Regions from separate parts of the Homo sapiens genome. Here all the other regions are linked to region 2. Evidence: fine-mapped expression QTL. A gene starts in region 2. Each other region holds a variant in brackets. All regions are shown on one strand. Distances are between the middles of the regions.

Region 1 (7,683 bases), 77 kb before region 2:
AAAAAAAAGGAAGAAAAGGAACCTGAAGAACAGATAAGGGGAGAAAAGACAAAAGTAGCACAAAGCCAAAAGAGGGAAGATAAGTACTTTATAGATAATCTCAGTTAATCTTTTCAATAACCCTATAAGGTAGATACTCACAGTTCCTCACTGTGTAGACAGACACACTAAAACCTAGAGAAAGTAACTAAATGCCCAAGTCTATTTAGTAAGTTGTGGAGTTGGCACAGAAACATGGCCTGATTTTAAAGCAGGGTTTTCCTGGGGTTTTTTTTTTTTTGGTGGCAGGTAAGATCCTGACAGACTGCTTTAAATTCTGATAAAAATCTAGATAGCCTTGCTACCGAAAACGAAATATGCATGAATACACAAGAAATTTAGAGGACTCAACAGAAAGGCATAGGGGATTTCCACACTTTAGAAAGGAGAAAAAGAATGCCTCCTGAAACTTAGCATCAAACTATTGATTAGAGAAATACAAAGTTACCAGCAAGAGGCAGGATGGCACACTGGACAGCATGAGATAGGATTAACTTTGTCAGATGTGTTAACACCATCTAAGAAAGGGCCCATCAGACAGAGAAGGCTTGGTTTACTATGAAAGCTGAGAAGGTTAGTGGGACAGAGGAGGCTTGGTTCACCATGAAAGCTGAGAATGGTTAGCGGGACAGAGGAGGCTTGGTTCACCATGAAAGCTGAGAAGGTTAGCGGGACAGAGGAGGCTTGGTTCACCATGAAAGCTGAGAATGGTTAGCGGGACAGAGGAGGCTTGGTTCACCATGAAAGCTGGGAAGGTTAGTGCGACAGAGGAGGCTTGGTTCACCATGAAAGCTGAGAAGGTTAGTGGGTAGGGAAGTTGTTAGATTCCATGAAACATTGTTGAGGGAACAGAGGAACCACTGGGCAAGGCCAAGCTTGGTAAGAACTGGAGATTTTGGGGTATCAATGAGTGATGTCATTAAAATTTGCCAATTGAAAAAAAAATCTTTTCTCTGTTCAGATTTAACACTGGCTCAGAAACCTGCAGATTATAATTTGGCTATGTGGGCCTCTCCTTTCCAGTGGAGAATATGCTGATTTGGTGATGTAATTTGCCATTTTAAATTAAGTGTGTCTTGATTATATATCTCATCCTGTCTGAGTTTGCTAAGTGTGGACCCACCTTAAAGACAGATATTCTCAGGGCTGATAAAAGCAGCAGAGCAGCCTGTGAGGCTGGGACACACGCAGGCCAGACATAGGTGGGTACACTGATGCCAGCCAGCCTTCCTCTGAGCACAACTGAACCTTCTGCAGCTATTCCTATTGTGTTTCTACTGTGAAAGATACTTGGTCACTGCCCTTAAGACTCAATGCATGCAGTTTTCAAAGTGTAGCCCCTGGGGACCTCCCTTTTGAGGGTTTGTGAGCATGGTGGTTGGGAGGGCCTGTGAAGTCAACATTATTTTCATTGTAGTATTAAGCCATCATTTGTTGTTTTCATTTTCATTTTTACACAGGTATACAGAGGCTATGCGATGTGATATCACAACAGCCTCAATGAGAACACAGCAATGAGAATTCAGGTGTCACCTTTTAAGATGCACATAAAGAGGCTTGCAAAAACATAAAACACCACTTTCCTTGCTATTTTCTTCTTTTTGGAAATTGTCATAAGAACTTTTTTTTTTCCTTAGAGTTGGGGTCTTGCTCTGTCACTCAGGCTGGAGTGCAGTGGCTCAATCATAGCTCACTGCAGCCTCAAACTCCTGGGCTCAAGCGATTCTTCTACCTCAGCCATCCAAATAGTTGGAACTACAGGCATGATCCACCACACCCGGCTATTTAAAACAAATTTTTTTTTACATACTGGTTCTCGCTATGTTGGGCAAGGTGGCCTTGGGCTCCTGGCCTCAAGCAATATTCCTGCCTCGGCCTCCAAGGGTGCTGGGATTACAGGTGTGGGCCACCGTGCCTGGCATAAATGTACGTTACAATAGATTTATTATTGTTACATTTCTTGGTTTTAATTTCTAATAGTTAGACTTAATGACCTTTTGACCTTTATGATGGTGTGAAAGTGATACGCATTCAGTAGAAACAGTACTTTAGTAGTCTCCAATAAATTCTATGAGATAGTCAACAATTTATTATAAAACAGTCTTTGATTTATTTTGCCCAAGTGTAGACTAATTTAAGAGGTCTGATCATGTTTAGGGTAGGCTAGACTAAGCTATGGTGCTCAGTAGATTTGACGCATTAAATGCATTTTTGACTTATGATATTTTCAATTCATGAGGGGTTTATCAGCATGTAGCCCCAGTGTAAGTCAGGAAGGATCTGTATAGTAATTATAGGAGTGCAAAGGGATTCCAAGACTAACCAGTGGCTACAAGGCCCCAGACAGGCTGGCAAAGGGCCCTCTGCAAACTTGAGCTTCCAGAGGGTTCCATGAGCCAGGATCCCACTGAGACCAAAGGCTTCTCCTGGGCTCTGTTTGTTTTTCTTATGCATATCCACCCGTGGTTTTCCTTTATCTGTGTCTCACCTTTACTTCCATACAGTTCTGGAGGCAAATCATATGGCACAGGAAAGGTGGCCATTGGCTCCTGGCTGCCAGCGAAGAACTTCTGTTTCACTTTGAAACTGTCTAGACCCTGCAGACACACAGAGGAAATCTATGATTGCACCCCATTTTCTGGGTTTAAAAAAAAAAACCAGAAGGCCTCAAGAAGCAATAATATCTTTATGGTACCTAAATAAAATTCAAATTATTTTGGAGGTATTTTCAATGTTCATAGGCAAATATATTTACAACCCCCCCGCCCCAAATTATTTTCCTTTCTAAACATAAGAGCTTTAATTTTCAGGAATTAAGTTATAGCAAAGTTTGCAAAAGTTTTCAAAGGATACAAAGAAACAAGAGAGACAATTTTGGATATGATAGCCCATTTCAACCCAACATTATGTACAGTTTGCAGGGAGTTTGTAGAACTCACTGTATAAAAATACCTCAAAATACTTCCAACATTGCTATAGTAACAGGCTGCCTGGAGTAAGAAGAAATAAAAGCTGCTTTCATGTATAATGAAAGTGTTCCAATATAATGTGACAGAAGTATAAAAATGAAAATTCTTTAAGACCTATCAAAATGGAAGGTTTATTCCAAGAACTCTAGAATAGGGTATTAATTTTAGATCTTAATCAGGGTGGAAGTGGAGGTTCTATATCTAGGCTGATGTTCACACTGCCACTTCCTTCCAACACAAGGCCTGCCGCAGTGCAGGTGCTTACCACATGACCGATGTGCCCCCTCGTGCTTCCATACATTGACCAACTCCTGCCCCTTCGTGGATCATCCTGGCATTCTGCTTGTCCGTCTGTCTCTCATTCCTTCTGTCCACCCATCCACACACATATCCACCCTTCAAATCCTCAATAGGCACATACCCAACAGTGCTGATGTCTTAGGAACCCATAAAAAGAACAAAGACTGAGGTGCAACTTAGCAAGCGGAGGCTGGTCATGGGCAGTGTCAAAGAACATGGGGAGGTCCGTGTTGACTGGGCTTCAGATAATCTGGGTTCTAGACTTTTCTCTGGCATTTATTAAGCTGAGTAAATGACTGATGTCTGCACATTCGTTCATTCGACACTTTATTTCTCGAGTCCCTCTTCTGGGTCAGGCATGGTGCCAGGCACTGAGTGTACAAGAGTTAACATAAACATCAATATCCTTGTCCTCATGGAGTATACAGTCTGGTGGAGGGACATAAAATACATCTATAAAAGTAAAATAAAAATTACTATTTGTGCTAAGTGCTGCAAAGAAAAGCAAAGGAGTGCCATAAGAGAATAGCAGGCCTATTTTAGACTTGGCAGGAGCGGGTGATCAGTGGAAGCCTCTCTTAAAAAAGCAACACCTTTATTAAACTCTGAAAGATGAGCAGAGTTTGGTCAGGTGGGAGTGGAAAGAATTATGTTGCAGGTGGAGGGAACAGCATCCGCAAAGGCCCAGAGGTGGCAAAGAGCCTGGCAGGTCCCAGGGACTAAAACAGATGTTGAGTGGGACAGTTGGCCACTTTTATTAGGTTTCTTT[G/T]TTTTTTGGAGACAGAGTCTCACTCTGTCACCCAGTCTGGAGTGCAGTGGTGTGATCTCGGCTCACTGCAGCCTCTGCCACCCGGGTTCAAGCAGTTCTCATGCCTCAGCCTCCCGAGCAGCTGGGATTACAAGCATGCACCACCATGCCTGGCAGATTTTTGTATTTTTAGTAGAGACAGGGATTCACCATGTTGTTCAGGCTGGTCTTGAACTCCTGGCCTCGAGTGATCCACCCACCCCAGGCTCTCAAAGTGCTGGGATTACAGGTGTGAGCCACTGTGCCTAGGTTTCAATTTCTGTGTTTGTCCGCATATTCTCACTCATAGGTGGGAACTGAACAATGAGAACACATGGACACAGGAAGGGGAACATCACACTCTGGGGACTGTTGTGGGGTGGGGGGAGGGGGGAGGGATAGCTTTAGGAGATATACCTAATGCTAAATGACAAGTTAATGGGTGCAGCACACCAGCATGGCACATGTATACATATGTAACTAACCTGCACATTGTGCACATGTACCCTAAAACTTAAAGTATAATAATAATAAAATTTAAAAAAAAATGTTCTGTGTTTGTAAAAGTGGGAAAGGCTGAGTGTGGTGGTTCACACCTGTAATCCCAGCACTTTGGGAGGCCGAGGCAGGCAGATCACTTGAGGTCCGGAGTTCAAGACCAGCCTAGACAACATGGTGAAACCACATCTCTAATAAATAAATACAAAAAAAAAAATTAACTGGAGTGGTGGTGTGTGCCTGTAATCTCAGTTACTTGGGAGGCTGAGGCAGGAGAATAGCTTGAACCCAGAAGGCAGAGGTTGCAGTGAGCCAAAATCACGCCACTGCACTCCAGGCTAGGTGACAGAGTGAAACTCCATCTCAAAAAAAAAAAAGAGTAAAAATGAGATAATCAAGCTTCTGGAGACATTACCATTTCTAACTTTAGCACCCAGCACAAGTCCTGGTACATAGTAGGTGTTCAAGAAATACCGATCTGTAGAAATGGAACTAAAGTTCCTTTCCTGCTTCCTTTATAAGTTTCTGCATAAGAGCAAATGGCACAACCTGTGTGAAAGTGTTTTGTGCATGTCAAGACCTACAGAAAGGTATGGGTTACAGCACTGATGAAGATGGTGATCAGTAATACAGTGAAAGGCAGGAGGTGGCAGATGCCAGGCACAAACTCTAGACAGAATAGGAAGAAGTGCCCTTCTTCTAGTCATTTTCCTTATCCAAGAAGGATAAGGAAAGGCTTTGTAGAGGATATTTTAGCTAGGGCTTGAAAAATTGGTGTAATTTTAATAAACAGAGAGATGATAGGGAAGAATACCAAGCGTGAGAACAGCATAATCAAAGGCAGGGTCAGCAAAGCACAGAGCAGGCACATCCCGGGAGGGCGAGGGCACTGACACAGAGGAGGGTGACAGGGAAGACACAGAGGAGGGGGACAGGGAAGACACGGAGGGCAGGCAGGCCAGCTCGGCAGCACCTGCCCCCAGGTTTCCCTGCTCACATGTTACCTTTGACACACTCTGGATCTGAGGAAGTCCCTAATTATCTCTTGCTTTTGCAGACTGCTTACTTGCTGTGTGGCTCTAAGCAAGTTACTTAGCCTTTCTGGGCCCTGGTTTCCTCGTTTATGAAATGAAGATGATATGAGCACCTAATTCATAGGGCTACTGTGAGGATATTTAAGTTATTTAACAATGACTGGCCCATGGTACTTATTCCAGGAAACAAATGAGTATAATTATAAGTATTTTCAGGACAATTCTCTGTGATGTAATCACTCCTATTTTACAGAGAAGGAAACATATTTGGAGGTTAAATAGTTGCCCAAGGCCACACAGCTATTAAAAGTGGCAAGGCCGGGCACAATGGCTCACACCTGTAATCCCAGCACTTTGGGAGGCCAAGGCGGGTGGATCACCTGAGGTCAGGAGTTCGAGACCAGCCTGATCAACATAGTGAAACCCTGTCTCTACTAAAAATACAAAAATTAGTCAGGCATGGTGGAGTATGCCTGTAATCCCAGCTACTTGGGAGGCTGAGACAGGAGAATCGCTGGAATCCAGGAGGCAGAGGTTGCACTGAGCCGAGATCGAGCCACTGTACTCCAGCCTAGGTGACAGTGATGAAACTCTGTCTCAAAAAAAAAAAAAAAAAGGCCGGGTGCGGTGGCTCATGCCTGTAATGCCAGCACTTTGTGAGGCCGAGGCGGGCGGATGACCTGAGGTCAGGAGTTCGAGACCAGCCTGGCCAACACGGAGAAACCCCATCTCTACTAAAAATACAAAAAATTAGCCAGGTGTGGTAGTGCGCATCTGTAATCCCAGCTACTTAGGAGGCTGAGGCAGGAGAATCACTTGAACCCAGAAGGCGGAGGTTGCAGTGAGCCAGGATGGCACCACTGCACTCCAGCCTGGGTGACAAAGCGAGACTCTGTCTCAAAAAAAAAAAAAAAAAAAAATAATGGCAGGGCTGGAAATCAAACCGTCTTTCTGATTCTTGGTCCTACATTCCTTCCACCAAGCAAACAAATGGTCTCACATTCACCACCAGGAACTATGACAAAGGAAGAATTCCTTGAAAATTTAAGGCAGGCAGGGTCAAGATGAGCCAAATTCTAGAAACCCTGGTATTTGGACATTTTAAAAAACAAAGAGGCTAGTGGCTGGGAAGTGATTCCAAGTTAATGATTATTATACTTTTATGGAGTTTCAGGTAAAAAATGACTTCTCTCTTCTTTAGCTCCTATTAGTCCTGATATTTTCAAATATATCGTGGCCACAGGTTATGGTTCTTTACAGCCTGGGCCCAGATCTGAGGCTGTGTGCTCGACCCATGACTCCATTTTGTGATATTCGACCTCAGATATGAGAAGGTTTGAACTATCCCTGTCTGACAGAAACCAATATGCTTTTATTTTGAATGCCATTTCTGATCCAAATTCTAGGTTATTACAAAAAAAAGTACTACTTTCCCCTTCAATCTGAATGTCAAATAATTTGAGGCTGTCTTCTAATTATCATTATTTATATATCACAGTGGTATCACTTGGCATTTTACAAAACAGAGGAAGGCACCCTCCCAGGCACAGATACTTAGAAGACAGTTAAGACAATACGTTTATAAAACACCAGGTGAGAGGGTGGACATATATCACACATGAGAAATTGCTGGCTTTTCCTTTCTTCAGCTTTGGGAGTGAAAGAGCTGATTGTCGCTCTGATGATTTATGTTTAGCAGCTTAGCTCAATCATAGGGAACAGGAGGCATGCTTCAGTTTCAGTTAGAGATGTAATTTATGTTTTTATTTGCAGCTATCCGAGTAGCAACCTCAAGTGGTAAAACCCTACACAAGGCATCAGGCTTTCCTGGATAAAACAGTGATAGCAGCTGAACTTCCCAGAAGGGGCACACTTAGTCAAAGACCAACTAATTGGCAAGGAAGTAAATTATAGGAAGGTGGTGGCATCTTTCCTGCAAGGCAGTATAGGATCAACAACTGGAAGTGCTTCCAGCTAGGGGCTTAGGAAAAGCTTTGTGGAGAAGTGTAAACCTAACAGGATTTTGAAGGATGGGTTTTTGATAAGCAAAGGGCTG
Region 2 (7,683 bases):
AGTTTAAAGCCTGAAAGCCAAGCTACAAGTGTTGGGTAAATCCACGGACCGGATTGATAACCCCTCTTCCCACTTGGCACACTTTCCTCTGATCAATCCCCACCCTTCACCTACTTTACATATATCTACCCTTCCCTAATTGGTTTTTTACATTGTCATGCCCACCTTTGAGTGGTGCCTTTGTTTTAGCCTTTTTTGCATACTCACAAACCATGGAGCACACACTCCCTCATTCTGAGCCCATAAAAGCCCCAGACTCAGTCACACCAGCGAACTGCCCACCTTGGGGTCAGGGCAGGGGCCATCCACTTGGGGTCCCGTCTCTGCTGAGAACTGTCTCATCACTGAGTAAAACTCACCTCCGCCCTTTTCCCCTTCGGTTGTCAGCCTAACCTCATTATTCTTGGACGCAGGACAAGAAATTCGGACCAGCTAAACAGCGAGTGCAAATAGAGCTATAACCCTGTAGCACTCCGTTCCGCTAGTGAAGCAATGGGAGAGGGAGCTGCTGGCTGCCACACACCCCCATTCATTGGGCTGCAGATGGTGGGACTAAAAGAGCTGTTAATACATCTCTATTTGCCTGGTGTCTCCAAGTGTTTGGGCACTACTGCATCCCCCTCGTCTGGACACCAGAATCTGCTACCAGAGTCACTTGCCATACACCCAGGCCATCCACAAGCCCTACATGGAGCCTGTGACTGGGCCAGCACTTGGAACAGCCAGCCGGGCCTCCAGGCTTGCTCACTCACTCACAAACCGACTCCTCGCGGGCTGAGCATGCAGTCATAGTGGCCACGGGATCTGGGCGGGGATGAAAGACAAATGCATTCTGCCAGGCTGAGTGGGCAGGGCACCTCCTGCAGCCAGCCCAGGGCTGGAGGTCTCCAGCTGGCAAAGCGGCCCTGAAATAAATCCTGTGTCATGTGTTAAGAGAATAAAGCAAACTGGGGAGAAGGCAGGTGAGTGTGAGTGAAATTTGGCAAACACTGCACTAACATGAAAAATCTAAGAAATCTTCCCACCAAATGCTAGCTCAGGACACTGTTAGCACTTTTATTAAGGACTTTAAAACATGTTGTGGATATAAAAGGGTACTCCATTTAGAGCTACTAGTGTTTCCTCACTCCCCACTATATGAGACCCAGCTGGGGCATTTCTCTTTCACCTCCAGCTGCTCCTTCTCATTGAGCTTAAAGACCATCAGCTGGGCCTGGAGGCCATGCTCCTCAATTGAGTTCCTGTGTGGCCAGTAATAGGCAAACATGGTCCCTTGTCTCAAACCCGGCCATGACTAGGGAGTAAATGTGCACTTGGGCAGGTTAGTTAACTGCTGAGCCTCAGTTTTTTAGTCTGTGAAATGGATATCATGCTTACCCCCTGGAGTTCATTCATTCAATAACTTACTGGGCAGCTATTATGTACCAAAAACTGGGAATGAGGCGTTAACAATATAGTTTCTACCCTAGCAGAGCTAATTTCAGGGCAGAAGAGACAGACCCACACATAAAAATTTTAATAGCCAAGATGAGTTAGACATTCATTACATTTTATAAGTATGAGACAGAAAAATAGGGGTGACCTTTGGAATATACTTAAAAAGTAACATATAAATGAGACCCAGAGGGCCAAAAGGAACCTGCTGTCTAAATGATGGGGTGAAGAGCATTCCCAAGTAGAGGGAACCCAGCCGGCAGAGGTGGGAAAGAGGTCATAAGAAAGGACTTAGGCAAGGCAGGCAGTGGTCCGAAGCGGGTGAGGGGAGAAGACTTGTTAAAGAAATTGGATTTTATGCAATGATCAATGGGACCCCACTGAGGGCTTTAAGAAGGGGAGTCCGATTTACATTTATTTTTTTGAGACAGAGTCTCGCTCTGCCGCTCAGGCTGGAGCGCAATGGCGCAATCTCGGCTCACTCCAACCTCTCTGCCTCCCAGGTTCAAGCAATTCTCCTACCTTAGCCTCCCGAGGAGCTAGGATTACAGGCATCCACCATCACGCTCGGCTAATTTTTCTATTTTTGTAGAGACGGGGTTTCACCATGTTGCCCGGGCTGATCTCAAACTCCTAACCTCAAGTGATTCAGCCGCCTCGGCCTCCCAAAGTGCTAGGATGACAGGCGTGAGTCACCGCGCCCGGCCTTCGATTTGCCTTTTTAATACAGCTGTGTGCTCCAACTCTGCGGAGAATGGGTTGAAGACAAAGGAAGTGAGAGGGCTCTTGCTGAAGGCGTTGGGGACGGAGCAGATTCAGAACGTGAGGAAGTGACGGCAGCAGCTGCTAACCTTACTGCGTGCTCATTTGGGGCCGGCCAGGCACGATTCGAAGCGCCTCACCAAGTGTAAACTCGCTTCACCCTCAGGACAACTCTATACTACGTACCGTGACCGTCCTCCTATACTGGGAAACCGAGCACAGAAAGCTTAAGCGCCTGGCACGTGGTGGGCGCTTTCCTACTCACTTTCTGGGACCACGCACCTGTAAGCTTAGGTCTGGGAATAAAAACCCGAGCAGGGGCCCCTAGCGCCGCGCCCCGGCAGGACACAGGTCTCCGCAGCGCCCGTGCGCGCCCCCTGAGGCGCTGTGATCGGAGGAAACCGAGGCCCCGGGGCCGAGGCGACCCTGCCCCATCTTCCCGGCCGCGCCGCTTCCTCGCGGTCCGCCTCCAGCCCTGCCGGACCCCAGCAGCCCGCGCACCGCGACTCGGCCAGGAGCAGGATCCCGGGCCCGACCGCAGCCCGCGAGAGACCGCACCGAGTCCGCGCCCACTGCCGCCCAACACGTACCTGAGGCGCACAGAACCAACGCTTGCCTCGGATCCCGCCCCTTCGGCGGCCGCCGCGCATGCGCGCAGTTCAAACCCTGGCGGCAGCGGCTTGTGCCTCGAGGCCCGGCCCCTTCCCCTTCCGGAGAGCCCACCGCTGGGTCCTAAAGCCCGCCGGGTGTTTACCCAGGACGGGGCTGGGGAAACCTGGTCTCTCCTAGCTCTTGGCTTACTTCCTGGAGACTTCTTAAAACGAGAGGAGAACCAGAAAGGCGTCCCCTAACTTCGCTCTAGTTAACTAATAGCAAGACTCACCCTCTTTACAGGATTCTCATGGCTCAGGCTCCCAGGGCTCCATGCAGCGGCGTTTGGTTTAAAGTGGAGAGAGGATACGCTTAGGTTAAAGGCAGCTGCAAGGAGACCTGTGTCCTGGGAGGGGCTGGGTGCAGACTTTGAAATCTGCTGCAAAATAAAAAGTTAAATGAGTTCCCATTGGACTCAGAACCTCGAATGTCTGTTCCTTCTTCGCAACAGTTGCGTTCTCGTAAAATCTTCTGAGAAAAGGAACTCGCCCCACGTTCCTTGCCTTTAATAAGGATGTTTGCTGTGGGATTTGGGCTCGGTGCTGTTTATGGTATTTATTCTTGGAATCTCTTTCACACTAGGCATCTCTTCCAGAGGACTGAGTGAAATACATCTGTGTAAATATAACGGCTCGTTTCGTTCTTTCATTGAAGATCTACTTTGTGCCAGGCACAGTGCTAGGTGCTGGGATTATCTTGAGGACATAACAGATGTAGTAGCTGCCCTAGGAGCTCGATCCCAATGACTTGCTGATCTGAACGAGAATCCTGGACTTGGCTCTTTTCGTTTGGTTCTTCTTGTTTGTTCACAGTCTTTTTGTCTCCTATAACGTTTAGCATAGTGTCATAGATCTAAATGATTAAAAGTAACCTATTGCAAGATGGAGGGAGAGAATGAAATAAATCATGAACCAGGCATTGAACCAGCACCTAGAAGCGCTTGGATTTCCAGCCGCGCTCAACGAGTTAAGGGACAGTCAGGGGGTGGAGCCAAGTGCTGGGGGCAGGCCTGGGCGCCTCACTGCCAGGGCGGCTCCAAGGAAACGTAATTAAACAAAGACTCTGGCCAATAGCCCTGCGGGATTAACGCGAGTGGCTGGCAGGTTGTCCAATGGGAGGAGACGTCGGAGTTGCGCGGTGAAGTTCGGCTTCCTGAGCCGCGGTGGGCGTGGCCGCGGTAGGCTGCCAGCCAGGCTGGGAAAGCGGTGGTAGCTGGTTGGGTTGCTGGGGCTCGGTTGTTGTAGTCGCGATGTTCTTCTCCGAGGCCAGAGCCAGGTCGCGGACGTGGGAAGCCAGTCCCTCGGAACACAGGAAGTGGGTGGAAGTAGGTTTCCGGAGGGCGACTGAGCCTCGGACTTCAGCTTGGCCTGGGCCTCTCGCTTCCTCTCCCGTGTCTGGGTCTCACTCTGCCGGGTGTGCAGATAAGACCTGGGCTGCCTGTCCAAAGGGTCGTGGTTAATGACTGATCCTGGAGCTGCAGGGCTCCTGGCTCCCCGTCCAGGACTACGGCTACCTCCAAGTTCCATCTCCTTTCTCTCTATATAGTCTATTAATGGTAACCTTGAGTCTGCATCTCTCCCGCCTTTCAAAGCCAGCCCCTTTGCCTCACCTTCCTAACTCCAGGACTGAATTTTGGGTAGAATTTATCTCAGTGGCCTAAATGAATTAATTTGCGTCACCTAGCGGTTAACTCGTTTGCACTTTGAGGGAAATTTCAGCCCATGTTTAAGAAAATTTCAGTCCATCTTTAAGATTTCTTGAGAATTAATATTGGGATAATGAAATTCTATTTTCATACTCTACCGCTGGGCCAAGTTTTAGATTTTCGAGGTCCAAACTGTATAATAAACTAGTAATAAAAATAAACCATTTCTGTCTCATTAACTAAAGCTATTTAATGTTCTTCAGGTATTTAAAGCATGTGATGAAGATCACAAAGGATATCTCAGCAGAGAGGACTTTAAAACTGCTGTTGTAATGCTGTTTGGGTACAAGCCCTCCAAGGTAGAGCTTTCTTATATATTTGGGGATGGGGTAGACGATCAAAGGTGAATGGATCCTAAGAAAAGTTCACAGGGCTAGCTTAGGATGTTTATAAATTGCTTTATAAGCAATTTCAGAGATGTGTCCAGTGCTGAATTTTAGCTTCCTCTTAACACCTCAGCCCAGAGATGAAGTAGAAATCTTTTCCACTGGAGTCTACACAAGCCTATCTCACCACCAGGCTGCTAATAACTACTATAAATACAAGATGCTAGAGAGGTGCCAAGAGGGAAGACTGAGAGGGGAGTGTTGGTAACAGGAGAAATTTACATAGGACATGACATAGTCTCTTTCTCGTTTTACTTTTGTTGCTTTGTTTATAAAATACATCCACGGTCAAAAAATTAAAACAGTGCAGAAAGGTATAAAGTTGAGCATAAAATCCGCTCGCCGCCTACCAGAGGGTCCCACTCCTAGGGGATTACCATTAACAGTTTTTTTGTGTAATTCTGAAATTTTCTATCCATGACATACATATGCATAGTCTTTTATTGAAAACATAAATGGGTAAATATTGTGCCTACTTTAACTTGCTTTTCTCATTTAACAATATATCAACCTAAAAGCACACACCACTACTGCATTTTAAAATATGGTTGCATATTCTTTTTAGCCAGGTTCCTGTCTGGGGTTATATAGGTGGGGTTTTTTTTTTTTTTCTGCCAACATTGCTGCAATGATACACACATTTATGTCCTTGTGGCTGTATATCTGTGGAATAAGTTCCTAGAAGTATAACTGCTAGGTCATGGAATATGTACGTTTAAAATTTTGTTAGATATTTGCTCTCCAGAAAAGATTGCACCAATTCACCAATAATGAGAGTTGAGCTGAGCCTCCATGAACCTCCTGCTTGAGTAGGGCAAGTTTCCTGCTCACCCCTGTCTTTATGCTTTTCTGCTTTCCTGTTACATTCATTCGAGAGACAACACCCTTCTTGTTAAGCTGGAATTAGTCAGAGTCAAGATATTGTCCAGATTCAAGAAATTGAGCTGCCACCATCAAGCAAAGGAAGCACTCAGAGCTCAGCCTGGAATGCCATCCCTCACTCTCATTAGACCAGACAGCTTGGCAGTTAATTAGGGCCCAGCTGTTCTCCTCATGAGTGGACTGTGCCTTTCTGTCAGATTGAAAGCCCAGCAAAGCCAGGGACCCTGTGATGTCATGCCTCTCCGCCCTATTTGTGTCAACAGAACATACTTACTGTGAAGTTGTGATGCACAATAAGTATTAATATATTCTCTTGACCCAAGTAGGTTGCATGAACAGCTCAGGTGGGTTCAGAGTGGCTCAGCTATGAGGGGCTGCCTAGTTACTGAGAAGCTTATTATGGAGCTCAGAGAAGTAGTCAGGGCTGACTCTTAGAAATGGCAGCTCTCCTGTTTACCTGTAATCATTTCAGTTGGAATTACAAAGCAGGTCAGCTGAAAAGAGTCAGCCTGTGAAGCATTGTATTTAACTTGGATTCACCTGGAAAGGTATCTTGTCTCATTTTTGCCTTTATCACCCTTGAGTCTATTTGGTTTCAATTTTAGAATGAGGAATTTAATGACAGATACAGTGATGTAACATACTGTACATACACTCCATGAAATTTAACAGATTTTACTTTTCATATTGAGGTGAGGTTTTCTATTTTATTTTTTAAGCAAATGAACTATTTAGTAACCGCAGGTCACTAAACGGTATTTACTAATAGCATGTCACCTATAAACTTAGTCATTTGTACAATGAACTTTTATTATGCAGGTGACACTTAATTTCTGTGAAATTCAACAGATTTTTTTAGACTAGGTTGAGGTTTGGGGTTTAATTTTTTAATATTGCTTTTGAGCAAATGAAATATTCACTGACTGCAGGTCATGAAGCAATAAAATACTTATATAATAAATCACTTATACATTCATGCAGTTTTTTACATAATTAAGTTTATTTATTTGTTGAGATGCAGTCTTGCTCTGTCACCCAGGCTAGAGTGTAGTGGCGTGATCTAGGCTCACTGCAACCTCCACTTTCCAGGTTCAAGCAATTCTCCTGCCTCATCCTCTTGAGTAGCTGGGACTACAGGTGCACACGACCATACCCGGTTCTTTTTTTTCTTTTTTTTTTTTTGTGTTTTTAGTAGAGATGGGGTTTCACCAATGTTGGCCAGTCTGGTCTCCAACTCCTGACCTCAAGTGATCCGCCCACCTCAGCCTCCCAAAGTGCTGGGATTACAGGCATAAGCTACTGTGCCCACCCATACACAATGAAATTTATTGTTTCTATTTAATAAAAGGAGTACTTGCTAGTTGCTAGTGATATAAAGATGAATGAAACACAGTCTCTACTTCGAAGCAGTTCAGAGTTTAATATAGAAAGACATAAAACTGTGATAGATACCAAGAAAGAGAAGAGATTGAAAAACAAAGTGAAGGGAGCAAAGAAGGAAGGCCTAATTCTAGTGGTAACTATAACAGTCTGGGTGGTCATTTAGACTAGAGAAGATAGACTACTCTGATAAGTATCTAGGAACACTTTGTGGGTGGTGGGACAAGTTAGGCCCTGATGACTGATTGGATGTGGTGGTGGTAAGAGTGACATGACCACTGGGACTGAAGGGATAGCAATGCCACCAATTAAGAGAAAATTTAAGAGTAGGTTCAGAGGAAGTCAGTGAGTTTCGATTGGAACACATTGAGTTTGAGGCAGCTATGAGCATTCCAGGTGCATTCACTCGTTAAATAATATGCTGGCTATTGAGGTTATGGTGGTGAAAATCCACCGTTAGATTTTACTGCTTCCCTGAGATGT
Region 3 (7,683 bases), 70 kb after region 2:
AAAGGAAGAAATTGTCTTCATACAGCCCCTTTTAATCTTCAGTGTTGTTTCATGGCTCTTAATTTTCAGATTTGAAAAATCATTCTAATTATCATGCAAACCCTTCCTGATCTCATAGGCTTTTCTCTGCCTCTGTGTTTCTTCTGGGTTGGAGAATTTGAATTGTTTTTTCCATTTGTCTGGTCCTTGACCACTAATTTACTGCCATGGTTCTTTCTGTATTTCCCTTTTGGTATTTTCTGAAATTTAGCAATTAGAACTGCAAACAGAGACAGTATCACAGCGCCATGGTTTTATAAACAAAGACAGGACAGCTGTCTTAGTCCATTTGGGCTGCTATAATAAAAATACCATAAACTGGGTGGCTTATAAACAACAGAAATTTTTTTCTGACACTTCTGTAGGCCGGGAAGTCCAAGAGCAAGGAGCTGGCAAATCTGGAGTCTGGGGAGGGCCCACTTTCTGGTTCACAGATGGTACCTTCTAAATGTGTCCTTGATATAGTTTGGACATTTGTTCCCACCCAAATCTCATGTTGAACTGTAATCCCCAATGCTGGAGGTGGGGCCTGGTGGGAGGTGTCTGGATCATGGGGACAGATCCCTCAAGGCTTGGTGCTGTCTTCATGTTAGTGAGTTCTTGTGAGATTTGGCCATTTAAAAGTGTGTAGCACTTCCCCTGCTCCAACTCTTGTTCCTGCTCTGGCCATGTGACATGCCTGCTCCTGCTTTACCTTCTGCCATGATTGTAGGCTTCCCCAGAAGCCAAGCAGATGCCAACGCCATGCTTCCTGTAAAGCCTGCAGAACCATAAGCCATCTAAACCTTGTCTTTATAAATTATCTAAGCTCAGATATTTCTTTATAGCAATGCAAGAACAGCCTACTACAGTCTTCATATGGTGAAAGGAGAGAACTCTAGTCTCTTCAGCCCCTTATAAGGGCACCAATCCCATTCATGGGGGTTCAGCCTTTATGACCTAATTACCTTCCAAAGGCCCCACCTCCAGCCATCACATTGGTGATTAGGTTTTAACATATGCATTTGGGGCAGGCACAAATATTCAGACCATAGCAACAGCATTTTCTGTTTTATTTCCTTCTTTGTAATTCTCATCATTGTATTGGCCGTATTATCTACCTCAGTATGTTGAACAGTGACTTAAGGGCATGGCCTTTAAATGCTGCTAGAGGGCCATCTGGGATATAGCTGATAACTAAGAGCTTGCCTCTCTACAAGTATACTTTAGATTATTTTTTTAGAATTGAAATGAGAAGATTCACTATTTGCTATATCCATTTCCAAGAAAATATATTATAGCTTCAAGAAAAATGCGAGTGTTAACACGTGCTGAAATATGATACAGATGTTTAATGTCTTACTGTAATATTATTTTACTGTTCATAGTCACCTGCTTTTTTGATCCCTGCCTAAGTTTGCTTTCTTTATTCCATAACACCTGTTCCCAGGAATATATTTACAGTCTGTTGTCTTTTCTAAATGGTTGGTACATATGTAAGAAAAAGGTTGACTTTTACTGGTTTCTTTCAGTAAATACCTTAAGGATTCCTTGTTATTTATTTTCAGTGTTACTTTATTTCAATTTAATACCTTAGTACTGTTTTTACTTAAATACCACATAAGGAGTCATGCTATATGACCTAGGCATGACACTTACTTAAATGTTTATGGATAGAAAACAAATTATTTCTAGTTTTACTTTTTAAAAAGAATTCCAAAACTTCAAACTACACATGATAAATGGCCCTGTGTTTCCATAGGCTTAGAAAGCTTATGTCTAATTTATTACTCCTATGTGATCATGTGTATCTAGTTGTTTGCTACCTTCTATTTCAGATCTTTGCATTTGTAGTTCCCTGTTTAAATATCACATCATCAGAGAGGCCTTTCCTATCCAAAGTGACTTCACTCCATCTCCCATCCCCAGTAAATCTCTGCTGCCTGGTTTTATGTCATTCATAGCAGTTAGCAAATCTCAGGGAAGATTTTTGTTTTTGTTTCCTTATTGTCTATCTGTCAGGCTTGACTATAAAGCTTCATGAGAGCAGTGATGTTGTCTGTTCTTGAATACCTCTGGATGTTCAGGTTAGTTCAGAGCACTTGTTGAATAAATTAATGAATTTATTAAAGACTATAAAAACAATCTGTTTATATTAGTATGGTATTTGATCTTTGTTAATTCAAATCTATAAGATTTTCTGTGGATTATTTAGGATGTGAAGAAGGTATCCAGACTGACCTTAGGTTTAGGTTATAATAATTAGCTAACTAAAAAGTTAACAATGGATATATTTAATCTCTAAGCCTGATTAAATTTTCTGACTCTTTGGGCTGTCTCTGAGAATTGTGTATCTGCTGTAAATTACCAAAACTGCAATAAATCAGGAGTCTTTCCAAATATCGAGATACTAAATACATACTTTGATCTCTTTGTGTCCATTAGAAATATTTTAAACATAGAAAAGTATGGAGAATAATATGGTGTAACACTTGCATTTCAGCCACTTCCCTTTATCTTGTCTTAATATTTGTCATATTTGCCTCAGTGTTTGATCAAAAACCAGTCTTGATATTTTTAAGATATACTTAAATCAGTAGATCTTGAGTAAAGCAGATCACTTTCCTTTTTTTTTTTTTTTTTTTTTTTTTTTGAGACGGAGTTTCGCTCTGTTGCTCAGGCTGGAGTGCAGTGGCGCGATCTCAGCTCACTGCAAGCTCCGCCCCCAGGGTTCATGCCATTCTCCTGCCTCAGCCTCCCGAATAGCTGGGACTACAGGCACCCGCCACCACGCCCGGCTCATTTCTTTGTATTTTTAGTAGAGACGGGGTTTCACAGAGTTGGCCAGGATGGTCTTGATCTCCTGACCTCGTGATCCACCAGCCTTGGCCTCCCAAAGTGCTGGGATTACAGGCATGAGCCACCACGCCTGACCGAGCAGATCACTTTCTATAAGGTGAGAGGGCCTCATCTAATCAGTTGAATGCCTTAAGAGAAAACATGTAGGTCCCCCAGGGAAGAAGCAGTTCTGCCCACAGGCTGCCTTCAGATTTGAGGCTGCAACATTAACTCTTCCCTTGACTCTCTGTTATGTTGCATTGGTCTGTTTGTCTATCTTTGTGCCAGTATCACACTCTCTTTATTATATAACTTTGTAATCTTGATGTCTGGCAGTGTAAGTCCTAGAGCTTTGTGTTTTCTTCAGAATTATCTTGGCTATTTTTAGCCCATTGTGTTTTAAAATAAATTTTAGAGTCAGTTTTTCAATTTCCACCAAAGAAAAAAAAAGAAAAAAACAAGAAGCCAACTTCAAACCCAAAAGTTGCTGTCTTCTTTCTTTCTCTTTCCTTCTTTCTTTCTTTTAGTTGCTGTCTTCTTTCTTTCTTTCTCTCTTTCTTTCTTTCTTTCTTTCCTTTCTTTCCTTTCTTTCTCTCTCTCTCTCTTTCTCTCTCTCTTTCTTTCTCTCTTTCTCTCTCTTTCTCTCTTTTTTTTTTTCAACAGAGTCTTGCTCTGTCACCCAGGCTGGAGTGCAGTGGTGCGATCTCAGCTCACTGCAACCTCCACCTCCCAGGTTCAAGCGATTCTTCTGCCCCAGCCTCCAAGTAGCTGGGACTACAGGCGCACGCTACCACGCCTGGCTAATTTTCTGTATTTTTAGTAGAGATGGGGTTTCACCATGTTAGCCAGGATGGTCTCGATCTCCTGATCTCGTAATCCACCTGCCTCAGACTTCCAAAGTGCTGGGATTACAGGCTTGAGCCACCACGCCCGCTGGCTGGGTTTTTAATTGAATTTATATTGAATCTTTAGACTAGATCAATTTGGGGAGAACTGACAATGCCAAAATGTTTTAAGTCTTCCAGTGCATGAATAAAGTATATCCTTTTGTTTTTAAAGGTCTTATTTAACTTTCCTTGCTGTTTTGTAGTTTTAATGTAAAAGTTTTACACATATT[T/G]TATCAGATAATTCTGAAATATTTGGTTTTTATGTAGTTATATAGATTTTTAAATTTTATTTTCTACTTATTTAGATATACAATTGTTTTTTATATGCTGGTCTTACACCAGCAGCATGACTGAATGTCTTAGTCTAGTCCGTCTGTTGTAACAGAATACCATAGACTGGGTGGCTTAAACAACAGAAATTTATTTTCTCACAGTTCTTAAGACTGCGAAGTCTGCAATCAGATGCCAGCATGGTCTGGTTCTGGTGAGGAGGCTCTTCCTGGCTTGCAGATGGCTGCCTGCCTGGCTGTGTGCTTCTGGGTCCTTTCCTGGACATGTGCACAGAGTGGGGGATCTCTTGCTCTTCTTATAAGAGCACTAATCCCTTATGATGGTCCCACTCTCATGACCTAATTACTTCCCAAAGACACCACCTCCAAATACTGTCACATTGTGGGTGAGGGATTCGACACAGAATTTAGAGCAGGAGTGGGCACACACATTCAGTACATAATACAAAGTTAACTTATTCTAGTACTTCGTCTTAGTAATTGTAATAGTATATATTTTATGTTTTCTAGGCATGCAATCAAGTCATCTTCAAACAATAGTAGTTTTATTTCTTCTTTTCCAATTCTTATGTCATTGATTTCTTTTTCTTTTCTTACTATATCAGCTAGGGTCTCCCACATAGTGATAAATAAAAGTTATGTGAGCAGGTATCCTGTTTCTTCCCCATCTTGGTGGGGGGAGGGGAAAACTTTAGTATTTCACATTAACTATGGAATATGCAATAGGTTTTTGGGTTTTGTTATGTTTTTAGGGGATAAATAACCTTTATTAGATTAAGGGAGCTCCTGCTTTGCTAAGAAATTTTATCATGAATAAATACTGACTTTTATTAAATGCTTTTTCTGCTCATGTTGCCATAATCATATTTTTCTCCTTTACCCTGTTAATGTGATGATGATATGCAGTAGACCAATAGTAAAAATAGAACTATTGTACCATTAGTAAATGTGAGGCTTAGAGGATATACAATTGTATAATTTTTTTTTGTTAAGGGCATTTAAAAATTACTGTTTTCTTATTATTTTTTAGAGACAGAGTCTCCCTGTGTTGCCCAGGTTGGAGTGCAGTGGTGAGAGCATGGCTCACTATAGCCTCAAACTCCTGGGCTCAAGCAATCTTCCCACCTCCGCCTCTGGAGTAGCTGGGACTATGGGCATGTGCTACTATGCCCAGCTAGTTTTTTAAAACTTTTTTGGAGATGAGGTCTCACTCTGTTGCCCAGGCTAGTCTTGAACTCCTGGCCTCAAGCAGTCTCCCACCTCCATCTCTTGAGTAGCTGGATTACAGATGTAAGCCACTGTACCTGACTATATGGACATTATTTGTAGTAGATTCCACAATGCTGTTAAATTTGTCTATATCTAACAGGTACTTGGGAAGAATAATTAAATGAACAGAGAAGTGGTTTAGAAGTGACAGGTGACTTGGCATTTGTGTCCAAATAAAAAGTAAATGTACATTTGGCCCTCTATATCAGCAAGTTCCATGTCTGTGGATTCAACCAACTGAGGACAGAAAATATTTTTTTTAAGTTACATCTACGCTGAACATATACAGACTTTTTTCTTTGTCATTATTTCCTAAACAATATTGTATAACAACTGTTTACATGCCATTTACAATGTATTAGGCATTATGAATAATCTGGAGATGATTTAAAGTATACAAGAGGATGTGCTTAGGTTATATGCAAATACTACAATATTTTATAGTAAAGACTTAAGCATCTATGAATTTTAGTGTTCATGGGAGGTCCTGGAACCAGTCCTTCATGGATACCAAGCGATGACTATATTTATATATTCAGTCACCTTTTGACAAAGCTTAATGGCAGTATTTCTTTTGTGAGTCTGAACAAATTTTCAAGAAACTACAAAACATTCCTCTAATATCAATTTCTTTTATTCAAAGATGTACTAGAATATTATTATGTTAAGATAACTATCTTAGTCCATTTGTGTTGCTTTAAAGGAATACCTGAAGCTGGATAATTTATAATGTAAAAGGGTTATTTGGCTAAAAATTCTGATGGCTGGAGAGTTCAAGATTGGGCGTTTTGCATCTGGTGAGGCCTCAGATTTCTTCCACTCTTGGTGGAAGGCAAAGGGGAGCTGGCATGTGCAGAGATCACACGGCAAGAGAGGAAGCAAAAGAAAGAGTGGGGAGGCGCCCGGCTCTTCTTAACAACCAGCTCTGGTGGGAACTAATAGAGTAAGAACTCACTCACCCTCAACCCCAAGAGAGCACATTCATCTGTTCATGAGGACCCACTTTTCCACCCCCAGGACCCAAACACCTCCCATTGGGCCCCACTTTTAACACTGGGAATCAAATTTCAGCTGGAGGTCTGAGGGGACAAACATCCAAACCATAGCGGTAGCTGTAGGACTTTTTAGCTCTGCCTTCTTTAAATTGTATATTATATGTAACTGAGCCACAGACTGAGAGGTGGGTAGAACATTCACCAGGCCTTTTCTTGTTCCTAAGAACAGTGAAAATTCAAAGAAGGTACACTCTGTAGGAAATCGGTATTTCCCATCATTGCTTATATAAATCTTAAGCAACCTTATTTTAAGGTGAGTAGATGAGTGAATGGATAGAGAGAGAAAAAAAAGAGAGAGAGTGAGAGAAGTCATAGAAACTTGCTGTAGGTTTTTCACCTGGATGAAATGAAACATCACAGATGGTTTCTCACAGATGATCTCTTGGCTTCCTTTTGTAGGAGTTTCTCCCAGGGCAGTGCATTCTTTGTCCATGGTGGGGAAAGAGTCAAAGTCACTATATCAAAATGATCAGTATTCTATAACATATTTGAATTTAGACCATCTCAACATATGCCGCACATACATTTCCCATTGTGCTTCACCCTTAACAGAAACAAATAATAAGACAAGGTAGTATTTGAACCTCTCAATGAAGAGTTTATAATGCATTGAATAAAGTCTTCACAGATACCAATATTTTATTCGTCCCTCTGGCACCCAGGAAGTTTTTCAACACTCAGGCAATGCATGATTGTAAGATTCATGTTAGGTAAGAAATGTGCCTTTCTTTTGTAAAGTAGAAAAAAGGTGTTTGAAAGGGGAAGTGGGATTAGAAAACCAGTATAGCTCCACACAGGTGCTCTTGAGCAAACCAGTTTTTGGAAGCATTATAAATAGAAGTCAAAGTTCTGTTAATTGATTATAGTAATACTACATTGCTTATGTAACCCTAAGCATACATGCTCCTATGTTTAATGCTACTGATCTTGGTTGTAGACCCAGGTTTGAAATTATTTTTGTTCAAGTGCATGCACACTGTCAACTTCATACCTTTACTCTTTAATGAAGGAAAATTTAAGACAAGTAAAATTTAGAACAGATTTTGTATAGTTGGTAGTAGAATTTGAAAATATATTAGTTCCAGGCCAGGCACAGTGGCTCATGCCTGTAATCCCAGCACTTTGTGAGGCCAAGGTGGGTAGATCACCTGAGGTCAGGAGTTTGAGACCAGCCTGGCCAACATGGTGAAACCCCGCCTCTACTAAAAATACAAAAATTAGCCAGGTGTGGTGGTGAATGTCTGTAATCCCAGCCACTCAGGAGGCTGAGGCAGGAGAATCACTTGAACCTGGGAGGCAGAGTTTGCAGTGAGCCGAGATTATACC

The links. PIP is the estimated chance that this variant, and not a neighbour inherited with it, causes the effect.
Region 1: its variant is fine-mapped to the expression of TDP1 in whole blood (TOPMed, PIP above 0.99).
Region 3: its variant is fine-mapped to the expression of TDP1 in whole blood (INTERVAL, PIP 0.97).

Annotation. Positions count from the first base shown.
Region 1 is chr14:90,028,059-90,035,741 of GRCh38, reverse strand. TDP1 (tyrosyl-DNA phosphodiesterase 1) reads right to left here. Exons shown (of 17, transcript NM_018319.4): 16 at 2,528-2,636. Among named protein-coding and RNA genes, the nearest start is that of KCNK13, 30 kb to the left of the region's middle. The variant G/T (reference allele first, on the strand shown) is at 4,078.
Region 2 is chr14:89,951,074-89,958,756 of GRCh38, reverse strand. It overlaps TDP1 (tyrosyl-DNA phosphodiesterase 1), which reads right to left and starts at 2,830. Exons shown (of 17, transcript NM_018319.4): 1 at 2,787-2,830; 2 at 1,957-2,179. EFCAB11 (EF-hand calcium binding domain 11) reads left to right here and starts at 4,027. Exons shown (of 6, transcript NM_145231.4): 1 at 4,027-4,171; 2 at 4,756-4,851. The coding sequence starts at 4,097. RefSeq lists enhancers at 264-772, 3,798-4,298 and a silencer at 2,503-2,732.
Region 3 is chr14:89,881,506-89,889,188 of GRCh38, reverse strand. All of the region lies in intron 5 of EFCAB11 (EF-hand calcium binding domain 11), which reads left to right. Among named protein-coding and RNA genes, the nearest start is that of EFCAB11, 69 kb to the left of the region's middle. RefSeq lists a silencer at 7,030-7,149. The variant T/G (reference allele first, on the strand shown) is at 3,974.